Homo sapiens: one gene and its partner. The protein of the gene in region 2 interacts with the protein of the main gene of each other region in a biochemical or structural test. Each region holds a gene or a part of one and is shown on either strand. Other genes may lie near its edges.

What was found.
Region 1: the proteins of ARF3 (region 2) and KIF23 form a complex in vitro, tested with the Homo sapiens proteins (one study listed by BioGRID).

Annotation. Positions count from the first base shown.
Region 1 is NC_000015.10:69,431,349-69,438,348, reverse strand, and holds part of KIF23 (kinesin-like protein KIF23), read right to left. Parts: intron 2,867-7,000; coding exon 2,787-2,866; intron 2,698-2,786; coding exon 2,578-2,697; intron 2,212-2,577; coding exon 2,088-2,211; intron 1,786-2,087; coding exon 1,627-1,785; intron 102-1,626; coding exon 1-101.
Region 2 is NC_000012.12:48,935,223-48,940,618, forward strand, and holds the end of ARF3 (ADP-ribosylation factor 3), read right to left. Parts: intron 4,886-5,396; coding exon 4,775-4,885; intron 4,558-4,774; coding exon 4,433-4,557; intron 3,887-4,432; coding exon 3,725-3,886; 3' UTR 517-3,724; downstream 1-516. Other genes in the region: peptidyl-prolyl cis-trans isomerase FKBP11, read right to left, coding at 432-516.

The DNA.
Region 1 (7,000 bases), on a different chromosome or scaffold from region 2:
TGAGATCATCTTCTCCTTTTCATTTAGTTTCCCTTGCATGTGGTTTTCTTTACTTAAAACAGCATTGTCAAATTCTTGTAACAAAGCTTTAAAAGCATTAGCTGAAACAAAAACATACAGGTCAAGTTTTACACCAGTTCTAAAACAAACAATGATATCAACTTTTGCTAGCAGACACTAGATAAAATGTAGTTATTCAGCAAATCTCTGTGAGAATCAGTCTATAATGAGAAAACAAGTTTAGAGGGAAATCAGGAGCTTCATTCTCCAGTTGACAAGATATTCACAGAAGCTTTCTGTTAAATGCTGAAAAAATACTCAAGTCTTTCACTGTGCACTATAGCATTCTCTTCCCAATCCTTACAGGTACTTTGCTTCACAACAACAAACGCAAAAATAGAAACAACACTACTATTTGGGATTAATTAAACCTGAGCTGAAATCCTTGGAACATCACTTACTAGTTATGACTTAGGCGAGTTAATTAATATTTCTGGGCAAATTTCATTTCAGTATGGAAATTTAAATACCACTTTATCTCACAACTTTTTGGTAAAGATTCAAATGAATAATGATAATAAAAATAGTAGAGCCAGGCATGGTGGCTCACGTCTGTAATCCCAGCATGTTGGGAGGCCAAGGTGGGTGGATCACGATGTCAGGAGTTTGAGACCAGCCTGACCAACATGGTGAAACCCCGTCTCTACTAAAAATACAAAAATTAGCAGGGCGTGGTGGTGTGCACCTATAATCCCAGCTACTCAGGAGGCTGAGGCAGGAAAATCGCTTGAACCCAGGAGGCGGAGGTTGCAGTGAGCCGAGATTGCGCCATTGCACTCCAACTTGGGCAACAGAGCGAGACTCAGTCTCAAAAAAAAAAAAAAAAAAAAAAGTAGATACATTCATTCACTGAGATACATTCACTATGTACCAGAATTTACTGTTCTACAGGATTTTCATACTTTATCTTATTTATCTTCACAACATATCCTGAGGTAGAAACAATTACAATCCCCACTATGTAGACAGGGGAAACTAAAAAATATTTCTTTGTGTCTCCATCACTGTAAAAAACAAAAGAAAGAACACACGCTCACTTTTTTCTTTTTGACTTCCTTAGAATACAAAAAAGAGCTGTGGAAAAATGCCTTGTCATACTAATCAAACAATGCCTTGAGTGCTTCAAAGTTCTAAAGACACAATTTTCTTTAACTTCCTTAAATATGCAATCTACCATATAACTCAGATTCATTGAAAATACTTTCAATTTCAGAAGTTACAATTATTGCAAATTGGCTGGGAGTGGTGGCTCATGCCTGTAATCCCAGCACTTTAGGAGGCCGAGGCAGGCGGATCACTTGAGGTCAGGAGTTTGAGACCAGCCTGGCCTACATGGCGAAACCCCGTCTCTACTAACAGTACAAAAATTAGCCAGGCGTGGTGGCATGTGCCTGTAGTCCCAGCTACTCGGGAGACTAAGGCAGGAGAATCGCTTGAACCCAGGAGGCGGAGGTTGCAGTGAACCGAGATTGTGCCACTGCACTCCACCCTGGGGTACAGAGTGAAACTATGTCTCAAAAAAAAAAAATAATTAAATAAAATTATTTCAAATAGTTTTGCCCTTACATTGTTTGTTAAACTCATCAATCATCATTTGTCGTAAGTTATGTCGTTTCTCTAAGGCTTCAATCAGCCTTGGAAGTGTCTGCTCATCGTTGATATCCAAAATTTCGCATGATGGCAAAGGTGGAAAACTCTGCAAAACCACGTCAGTAACCAATGGTTCTGTATTGAATTATAGAAAATTACAAAAAGTTACATAGGAGAGAAAGAGCTTATTTAAACAAGTTTAACACTGCATACAGCCCCAGTGCAACTAACCATTGCAATTTCTTGAGCTGACATAAGTTTACTTACCTAAGAATCATAGTATGCAAAATAAGCTCATTTAAATTTTGTTCAAATTATTATGTGCTTGGTTCTTCAGAAGGTATGTAAACATTTCTCTTAAATGAAATAATTTTTTTTAAAAAAGAGAGAAACAGACAGACCAATGAGTGGACAAATGATACAACACCAAATCATACCATTTCCAACTGGACCTCGAGGCTGGTTTCTGTATCTCCTCCCAGGCGTTAAACCACATATTGCCTTGTCTACAGGTCTTGCTACTTCAACTTCTTGAGTCACTTCCGCAAATCTCATGACTTGCTAAAACACAAAACAAATGGAGTTTAAAAAAAAATAAGGATATCCAAGTCCCAGAAATTACTAAATGAAGCAAAGATTGCTTATTTTTATTTATTTGAGACAGTCTGTCACCAGGCTGGAGTGCAGTGGCATGAACACGACTCACTGCAGCTTCGACCTCCCAGGTGGGCCCAATTGATCGTCCCACCTCAGCTTCCCAACATGTTGGGATTATAAGCATAAGCCACCACACCAAGCCTAGTTTACTTCTACAATCAATGGTTCTCTATCCATTTTTAAAATATTCAAAATGTCATTCTGCTCATCCAAGTAACTGTTTTCCCGACAAAAACTCAAGACTTTATAGGACAAATACATTAAAATTACCAAGTTTTCTTCATAATCTTCAGCCTTGGGGTTCACACACACGATCATCCGCACTTTTCCTTCCCCATCAAAGTAGTTCTTGAACAGATGGGTTAACTTTGAATCTCGATATGGAACCATCTACAAAGACATTCATATCCAAATGTGTTACGCAAAAAAAATGCACACAAATGAAACTATACAAAAGAACAGAGAAGGCTGCTGCTTACCTTGTTAGTTCCATACATTTGGTTCTCTCTTAGGACATCCATACATGTTCTTAGCGTCATTAGTGACTGATTAATATTACCTGACAGAAAAAAATACATAGACGCCATTTCAGAACAACAGTATAGTAGCTAAAGTGTGTTCTGTTTGCCTATAAAATCTCAACTTCAAACAACTACTAGATAGAAATTATAAATAACAAATTTTTGTGGCTCAATATAAAGAGCTGTCTATGCATGGTCCAGGCTCTCTTTCAATAGCAGTATTTCTGGGAAGGTTAAACAGCCATCCTTCAGGGATTCTACCAACAGGATTTTCCACAAAATGCAACATTACAGTTAATGACTATAAGGTTTCTTCCAAATCCTAAATTCTCTGAAGGAATATCTTATATAGAGATGTTTAATATCCTCATATTAAAATATATTCTCTAGGCAATTGACAGGAATCATGGCGACCCCCAGGCCACCGTCCCGCTTCTGGGGGTGGGGGAAGAATATCGTCTGTGTGGGGAGGAACTATGGGGACCACACCAGGGAGATGCCAACGCGGTGTTGAGCGAGTCCGTGCTGTTTCTGAAGCTGTCCACGGCCTACACACCTGAGGGCTCGCCCATCCTCATGCCCGCGTACAGCTGCAACCTGCACCACGAGCTGGAGCTGGGCATGGTGATGGGCAAGCATGGCCGCGCAGCTATGGACTACGTGAGCAGCTATGCCCTGTGCCTGGACATTACTGCCAGGGACGTGCAGGATGAGTGCAAGAAGAAGGGGCTGCCTTGGACTCTGGCCAAGAGCTTTATGGCCTCCTGCCCAGTCAGCGCGTTCGTGCCCAAGGAGAAGATCCCTGATCCTCCCAATCTGAGGCTCTGGCTCAAGGTCAACGGCGAACTCAAGACAGGAGGGTGAGACATCCTCCATGACTTTTTCCATCCCCTACATCATCAACTATGTTTCTAAGATCATGACCTTGGAAGAAGGAGATGTTATCTTGACCAGGACAACAAAGGGAGTTGAACCAGTTAAAGAAAACTATGAGATCCAGGCTGGCATACACGGCGTGGTCAGTATGAGATTGAAGGTGGAAAGGCCAGAATATTGAGGCATCTCTTAACAAGTTTCAGGGAGAAGGGAGAAAGACAAAAGCAAGCAACGGCTATTAAATGTCGCAATCCTTTAATAAGAAACCAATTATTTAAAAAAAAGATTAGATTGCTGTGGCTCAACTCAAAGAAGATGGATTCTTCAAGAAAACATGAACTAGAAGGGATGGACCAGAAATTTAAAAAGCCAAAGTAAAGTACTTCTGGTGCTTCGGAAAAATTTTATCAAACCAAATGTTCTAGAGTTTTCTTTCATAAAACTGGATTGGAGAAGACTTTTCAGTGGGTTATCTCTAGGATGATCAGTCGTTCAAGACTTAAAAACTGCAGGGAAAACTGAAAGTTATGTTCCAGATCAGTGTTTCCCAAATTTCCTTGGATTTGGTCATCATCAGGAAGCATTTGTAAAAATAAAAATTTCCAAACTACTGTGGCCCATCCCAGAGCCACTAAATCAATTTGATGGGATTAATCTCCAGTGAAGCTGTGTTTACAGAGTACTCCAAATGATTCTTATCAGGGAAATGTGGAAAAACACTGCTGTACATAATCAATTAATTTAAATTTTTACTTAATAAGTGAACAATTAATGAAGATTTCACCTGTTTACTTAGGGTGTCTACCCTGACCCATCGATTCTGAGTTCAGGAGATGATTTTGAAATTATTGTTTTCCAAATAAGTGTGCTGCTACCTTTTATGTGGCTAAAAAATAAAAATAATAAAATAAAATAAAAAATAAATAAATAAAATATATTCTCTAAGGCAGCAGATCCCCAAACTTTCTGGCATCAGGGACCAGTTTCATGGAAGACAATTTTTACACAGATGGGTTGAGGCTTGAGGGGTGTGGTTTGGGATGAAATCATTCCAGCTCAGATAATCAGGCATTAGATTCTCATAAGAAGCATGCAAGAGTCTGAAGCTCTTGCTGCATCTAGAGGGGCTCTCCTGTTGTTTCTAACAGTCAAGTGTCTTCAGAATCAGCTAACTCTGTCCCCTCTACATCTCAGCAAGGATTTCTTAGGTGGCATACTTGTTACTTCTGACCACTCTTATTTGGATTTCTGAGCCAAGGCAAGTCTAACAGTCTAATCAAGCTTTCAAGAATGCAGCTCTCATCTGATTAGACCCCATAAGAATGAGTTCATTTTGAAACCTTGATTGAGGTCAGCTAACTCGATTATGCTTTCACCCTTGGCCTCCTTGGAGGATCTTGGATACACCTCCCAAAATACAGAACTCATCTGTACCTCTGTAATATTCCATGATTCATGATTTACGTTCCTTGACCCAAACTCCTAATGTTCTTTCTTCTTCCACTGTGCTCTCAGGAACTCATGTTATTAACAGATTTCCCTGCATCTTCAAATCTCTCACAAAATAATCCATTGATAGCTTTCCCTAGTGGTCAGGGGTTCTTAACCTGAGGTCTATATTGTCCGGGGGAACATGATGGGGTGTCTGCATACTTAGATGGAAAATAAATTACATTATTTACTTTTTACCAAACCAACTGGAATTCACTAGTTCCTTCAATTATGAATGCAGGCCAAAAACCACAGCATTAGTAGTACCTGTAATTGGTATCAATACAAATCACAGATATTTTTATAGCATGTTACAGTTTGTTGCTCATCAAGATATTTATGTTCATCATTACACTGCATTTATTTAATCAGACCTGCTGCTGTGTCTTTAAGGTATTAATAAAGAAGCACATAATTACTGTATGACAAACTTAAGAATACTTTTAAAACACATTTCAATGCAATTGGTTTCCTCTGTAATCCTCTCTGTGTTATACCTTCAGAAATACTATACCAGGAAGGGTCCATAGGCTTCACCCTACATCCATGGCACACAGCCCTGCAACCTAACCATTTATCTCTTGCTGCAGCCCTGTAGCCTTTTGGAGTAAAAAAAAAAAAGCTACTTGTTTTCTAAAGGCTGACATTCTACAAGTATGGTAAACAGAGGGAGAGGCTAGCAACATTTTCCTAGTTCCTCCTTATTGCCTTGAAATATTCCTCCTACATGCCAGTCCCTGGTTTATTTCGGTGTCCATGAGAACAACAATCATTCTCATATGCTGTAGTCACAGGGTCCCAATGTCCCAGCTCCAGTAAATCTTTATCTCTATTCCATTACAGCTGACAGCCCAAACCCTATCCCTCAGAAGTGTACCACTTCTAAAAACCTGGAGCCTCTGCCATATGCCCCAACTACAATCTCCTTTTCTCTCTCACTCCCTAACTCTATATTAACACTAACAGTCCTTTCTAGCTTTTCCCCAAAGCATCCAAAACTTCAAGTTTTTACTTTCTTCCCAAACCAGCTCTTGTCCCATCAAAGTTAATCCTTCCTCTTGGATCTAGATTCAGATTTTCCTGCCTCTTCCAGGATCTTGCTCCGCCAATAATCACCACTTTATTATGAACACCTAGTAGGTAAGCTGCACTGGGTAGACATTGACAGACAGCACACACACAGTCCACTCTCATGAAATTCAAATGATTCAGACAAATTGCAAGAGTCCTTTGGGCCAGGGTAGAGGCAGCTCTAAAGGCCCCATTTCTCACCACTGGACTTAAACATCATCTCTTCAGCATATGAATAAACTCAAGTCTTTACTATCTTCTAATGTACATATATAATGTGTGTGTGTATTTTTTCATCATTTCATAATCCCTCAAATCCCTTTTAGCTATCACCCTTCTCTGTCCATCCCAAGCTAATAATCAAGGGCTTGCTGTTCCTCAAGCTTCTGCTCTCAGCTTGTTCCTCTCCATTCGCTATGAATTATCTTATCTCACCCAATTGCTTCAATCATTTCTTTTTTTTTTTTTTGAGACGGAGTCTCGCTCTGTCGCCCAGGCTGGAGTGCAATGGCGCGATCTCGGCTCACTGCAAGCTCTGCTTCACGGGTTCACGCCATTCTCCTGCCTCAGGCTCCCGAGTAGCTGGGACTACAGGCGCCCACCACCACGCCCAGCTAATTTTTTTGTATTTTTAGTAGAGATGGGGTTTCACCCTGTTAGCCAGGATGGTCTCGATCCCCTGACCTCGTGATCCGCCTGCCTTGGCCTCCCAAAGTGCTGGGATTACAGGCGTG
Region 2 (5,396 bases):
GGTGGAAGCACTGGTCCTTGAGGGTGATGGCCTATTAATAATAGAAGTGCTGAAAAGGAAAATTGGCAGGGGAGGCAGCAGGGAAGTAACTGAATATAAATTATATGCTTCACACTGGTACTTGGGGCTCTCAAACTTATTATATGCCTAAATCCTATCCCTTTCCCACAAAAGCAGGCTGGGAAGACCTCTGTCCTCAAAGCTTAAGAAAATATTAAGATTGGGGAAGGCTTGCCTGGCTCACCCAGACCTCACCCACCCTAAAGGTAGCACCATCCCTTTCTTTGCCTGGAGCCAGACACTGGTAGCAGGGGAGGAACAGAATAGTGGTGGGAGTGCGATGGGAGGATGGAGGCTTTATGGAAAAGGTCTATTCCTCAAGACATTTGTGGGATCTCTGGATGAGGCTTGGCATCCTGACAATGAAAAACCACACGCCTGAAGTAGAGCTGATGCAGGGCCATCAGTTGTAAGAAGGATTAAGGTCATTACACTGCCCAGACGTTTATCCTTCATGTTTATTCACTGCCAAAGTCCAGAACTAGACTAGTGAGGGGGTCTCTGTTCAAACTAGAAGCACCTCATGTGCAAGGCTGAGGAGATCTGAGAGTAGAGGCACATGGGGCCCTCCAAGTTCAGGGCCCTTCAGCCAGTGAAGTCCATACAGTCTACCAACAGGTGAGAAATACAGCTGATTTCAGGTTTAAACCCTTTAGAACTAGAGGAGGAAAGTCACGAAGCCCTCACACTCTGATGCCCAATTCATTTGGGCTCCCCCGCCGCGGGGTATGATGGGAAGAAATAACCAGTGTGGAGTGGCACTAAGTTCCTCCATAACCTTACTCTCTATCAATCAAGTGTGCCTTTTACCCCTTTGCTGAAAGAAGGAGCACTATGGAGAGAGGGACCAGAAACAGGACTCCCCTCACCATGAAACTACTGTCCCACGGCTGCTGCACAGCAAAGATGAAGGTCGGCTCCAAAGCTGCATAAAACAAGTTTAATTTCCAACCAGGGTCACAGTCATCGCGTTATCCCACATTTTGAGCAAGGATAGAGAAGGTGAGTTATTAAACATATACAGTCTACATTCCAGAGGAGGAACTGCAGTTACCACTATAACACCACAGACAAACTTTGGGGTGGGGGGAGCGGGAGTCCTCAGGAAGCAGAAAGCTGGAATCAGGGAAAGCATAAAATTAAACCTACCAGAGAGGAGAGGAGAGGGAGTGGGCAGAAATGGAATGAAACACCCAATCCCAAAAGAGCTGTTAAGTGAATGGGAATGTAGAAAGGACCACCCCTGCCAAGGGCTTAGCAGCCAGGGATACTACCAAGATCACTTACTGCCCCCTGCTGGACAGATCTGGGGCAGCACCAAGGCAACCTCCTAACATTTCCAGCCCCAGATTGGTCCCTGGAGCCCCCAAAAAAACAAGGTGAGGGGTGAGGCCTGAAGTGAGGAAAACCTATTTAGGACTGACATCTAACTAGAGAAAGTCAGGGAATGAGGCAGGAGAAGAGGCAAAGTCCTCATGAACCACAAAGATAGAGTGGAAAATCCTAAGTAGGAAAAAATACATGGAAAAGGGCAAATGAGCAACAGCAGTGAATGAGTTGAGATTGAAAAGGAAAGAGTTCAAGGAAGGAGAGGCAATGGGGCAAGACAAAATAAATCTGAGGAAACAGAGCAAATAAAAAGTATGGAGGGAAGCATCTGTGGGGCCAGGGAAATGAATACATTTTTAAATGAAATAGAACCTCCAACACCCCCCCCACAACCACCACACACAAACACACCCACACCCATATACACACACACTCACACACACACACAGGCCTAGAGAGCAAGATACCTGCACACACCTGCTGCATCCTGGGTAACACATCACTAAGTAACTGGCACTGAGGGAGATACCCCTGGAACCTCTCTTTCACAGTTCAATCTTGGATGGGGTTACTAATATTGATCCATCTGCTATCAACAAAAGTGGCCAGGAAACCTGGCCCCATGGAGTGGGGCTTGGGACAGCCCTACTGGGAAGGGGTCCCTCAGCCATGCTGTGGGGGGCCCTGGGCCCTGACCTTAGCAGGTTATGGGCAGCTGTCTCGGAGCTCAGGGCGCAGCCAGCACACACAGGAGCCCACAGGACAGCCACGTCTTCACAGAAACTACAGAAGTCAGGACCCAGGCGAGGACCTCAGGAACAAGTGCCCCCTGCAGACAGAGAGACGCAGTAGCAACAGCTTCTGAACAACTACATAATAATGCGGGGAGAATCCTGAAGACCACTGCATCCCACAAGCACTGACAACCACTTCAGGATTTTATTTCCTCCACTCTAACCCCCAGATCCATTTATGAGAAGTGAGTGAGGATGGCAGGGGCATGGAGGGTGAAGGGACAGCAAGGATGGTCTGAGGGCCTGGAAACAATAGAAAATCTTCGTCCTTTAGCATATCCTGGACTAGAAAACAAGAGTTGGAGAAGAGGGGGGTTGATACTAAGGTCAGCTATGTCACCCCACTTCCCAGCTCCTCATTAGAATACCCAGTCAGCCCTGGTCAGGCCAGTAGGAGTACTAGGGTGAGAAAATTCTGACCAAGGACAGATGACCCATCCAACCCCTAAGATCAGAAGGGTGGTGGGGCACTGGAAGGCAGGAATGGGATTGGCCCATGCCTCACCTTCTCCTAATAACAAAAGAGAATGAAGATGGAAAACCTCAGGCCTTCGCCTCCCTTCCCCCAATGCCCTGGGTCCCTAACACACACCATGGACTTGCCATCCCCACCCCCCAGTCAAGCTCCAGAGGAACAGATCTGAAGATGGTGGGGAAGGATCAGTTGAACACTCTAAGCTGATAAGAGTGAGTGGGTTCCTCTCTCCTTCCCAACAGTAAGGCAGAGCAGAGTGGCATCTCCTTGGGAACAGTCATCTAGAGATAAATGCCATCCTCCAGCCCTAAGAAGGGTGGAGAGAAGAGTACAAGGAAAATGGTGGTGAAGAATCCATCATCTGTCCTATCATCCAGAAAAACCTACCTGCAGAGAGGAGGGTAACCAGTCAAAGACTGGGGCAGTCCGGCTTGACTAATGCCCTCCCACCTTCTTCCCTTAATCTCACCAACACGGAAGGGGCAGATGACAGGCTCCAGTGGGCAGTGTCCTGGCTGCAAGCCCTGAGCTTCACTCCACCCCCTCCCCGCTCCCCCCGGCCCCCACAAATATATCTCTCTATACATGTATATACAGGCGCACACATGCACGCAAACACAGAGAGGCCCGTGCAATTTCCATGTAAAACAGGGAGAGGGTGGCAAAGGAAAGGCAAACAGGGAGTAGAAGGGCTTGTGGGGACAGGGAAAGGACTCAGATGCCAAGAGGACAGCAACCACTGCCAAACAAAGAGAATACCCCACTCGACCTCCCGAAACCCAGAGGGTGAGAGAGAGAGGGGCCACCCCATGAAACCGTAACAACTTTTTGTTTTAAATCCAGTAAATTGGAATGACTCATCATCAGGACAGCAATTAGGGATTGGTCATATAGGTGGACAGGAAAAAGGAGGGGAGGCAGGGGAGGCAAGGCTCTTGCTGGGCATGTGGACATGATACCCAGGGCCCTGGCCACACTTGCATGGAGAGGAAGGGGTAGGACTGGGGCAGGGTGACAGTAGGTATGTCAGGGGTGGGTGGGGTGCTTTGTTAGGGCTGTCTGGCTTTCACTTCTTGTTTTTGAGCTGATTGGCCAGCCAGTCCAGGCCTTCGTACAGCCCGTCCCCGCTGGTGGCACAGGTGGCCTGAATGTACCAGTTACGGTGACGAAGGGAATGCAGGCCCAGCTTGTCTGTGATCTCAGCAGCGTTCATAGCATTAGGCAGATCCTGGAGCACGTGGGAGACACATAAAAAGAAGCCTCAGGATTTTTTAAAGGCTTCTAGAACACCCATCTACCAAAGAAATGTGTACCAGCACCTTCCCCTCCTCCTTTATTTTAGGAAACCCAGAACAAGATCCTAAGGAGCTACTTTGGATTTAGTCACCTAGAACTCAAGATCCAAAGCACTAGAGGTCACTGTACTGAAGAATTGGAAACCAAATACGAGGATGGTGGGGAAGCAAGAGACGTGATTCAGACTGACCAAAGAATCAGGTCTGTCTGACAGCAGGAGTGAGGCCAATTCTCCTAAAGTAGATAACAGGCAAGATGAAAGAAAGATTTGAGACAATTCCTGAGGACTGAAATGTTGCTAAATAAAGCTTGGGGTGGGGCACAAGAAGAGGGGCATAAAGAAGCCAAGTGCTCAGTTTCCCACGCTTCTAACATTGAGAGCATACTAAAAGGGTTAACCATATAATAGGCCCAAGAGCCAACAATTTCCACAGCCAGTTTGCTGTCTCCCAAATTCAGGGGTGGGAAGAAGTCTCACCTGTTTGTTTGCAAAGACAAGGAGTACAGCATCCCGGAGCTCGTCCTCCGCCAGCATTCTCATCAGCTCTTCCCGGGCCTCATTTACTCGCTCCCGATCATTGCTGTCGACCACAAATATCAACCCTAGGAAGGCAGAGCATGGGCTGCACTAAGATGACAGGTAACCCCCTCCCCCCAACCAAAAGACCACACCTGCCTGACACCCTCCAAATATTTGCTCCCTTTCCTCCCTTTCTTCTGCCCCCAGGAGCTGCAGCAGGGTAACAGTTGGCCACCCATTAACAAAGACAGCCACACTCTCTGCTCATACCCAACCAACCCACGCTAGGCCTGAGCATACCTTGGGTGTTCTGGAAGTAGTGTCTCCAGAGGGGTCGAATCTTGTCCTGGCCACCCACATCCCACACTGTAAAGCTGATGTTCTTATACTCCACTGTCTCCACATTGAACCCTTTGGAAAAAAAACAGGCAATGGCCACTTGGCCTCAAACACTAGCCCCGCAAACACCACCACAATGAGTTTGGTTCTGCTTTCCCCCAGTGGTGGCCATAACACCAACAATGGAACAAAAGCTAAGGCTTCCTCAGACCTGATAATCGTTAAGCTAGCAGCCTGAAGGCCAAAATGAAAACCTAAGAGAAGTCAAAGAGGATGAGGAAGTTGGTTGAGAGGTTCACAGTTGCCTGGGTAACGTGGGCCAACTTTCCTGACTTTTCCACTCAGTCTTTGGTGCTCCCTCCTACAAAATGACTCAGCCCTGCTCTGGTACTTTGGCTACCAGAGTCGGCCTCAGCTAAGATGTGGGGCCTGAGAGGCAGAGTGAAGAAAGGGAAGTAAGCTGGCATCCTGGAGCCCCAAAGGCAGAGCCAGCTGACAATGCTGACTGGAGCCCCCATCTACATAGCAAATGTAGGGAGACCTCCCTTCAGCAAACTGTAACCAAGATTGGCCACCAAAGATC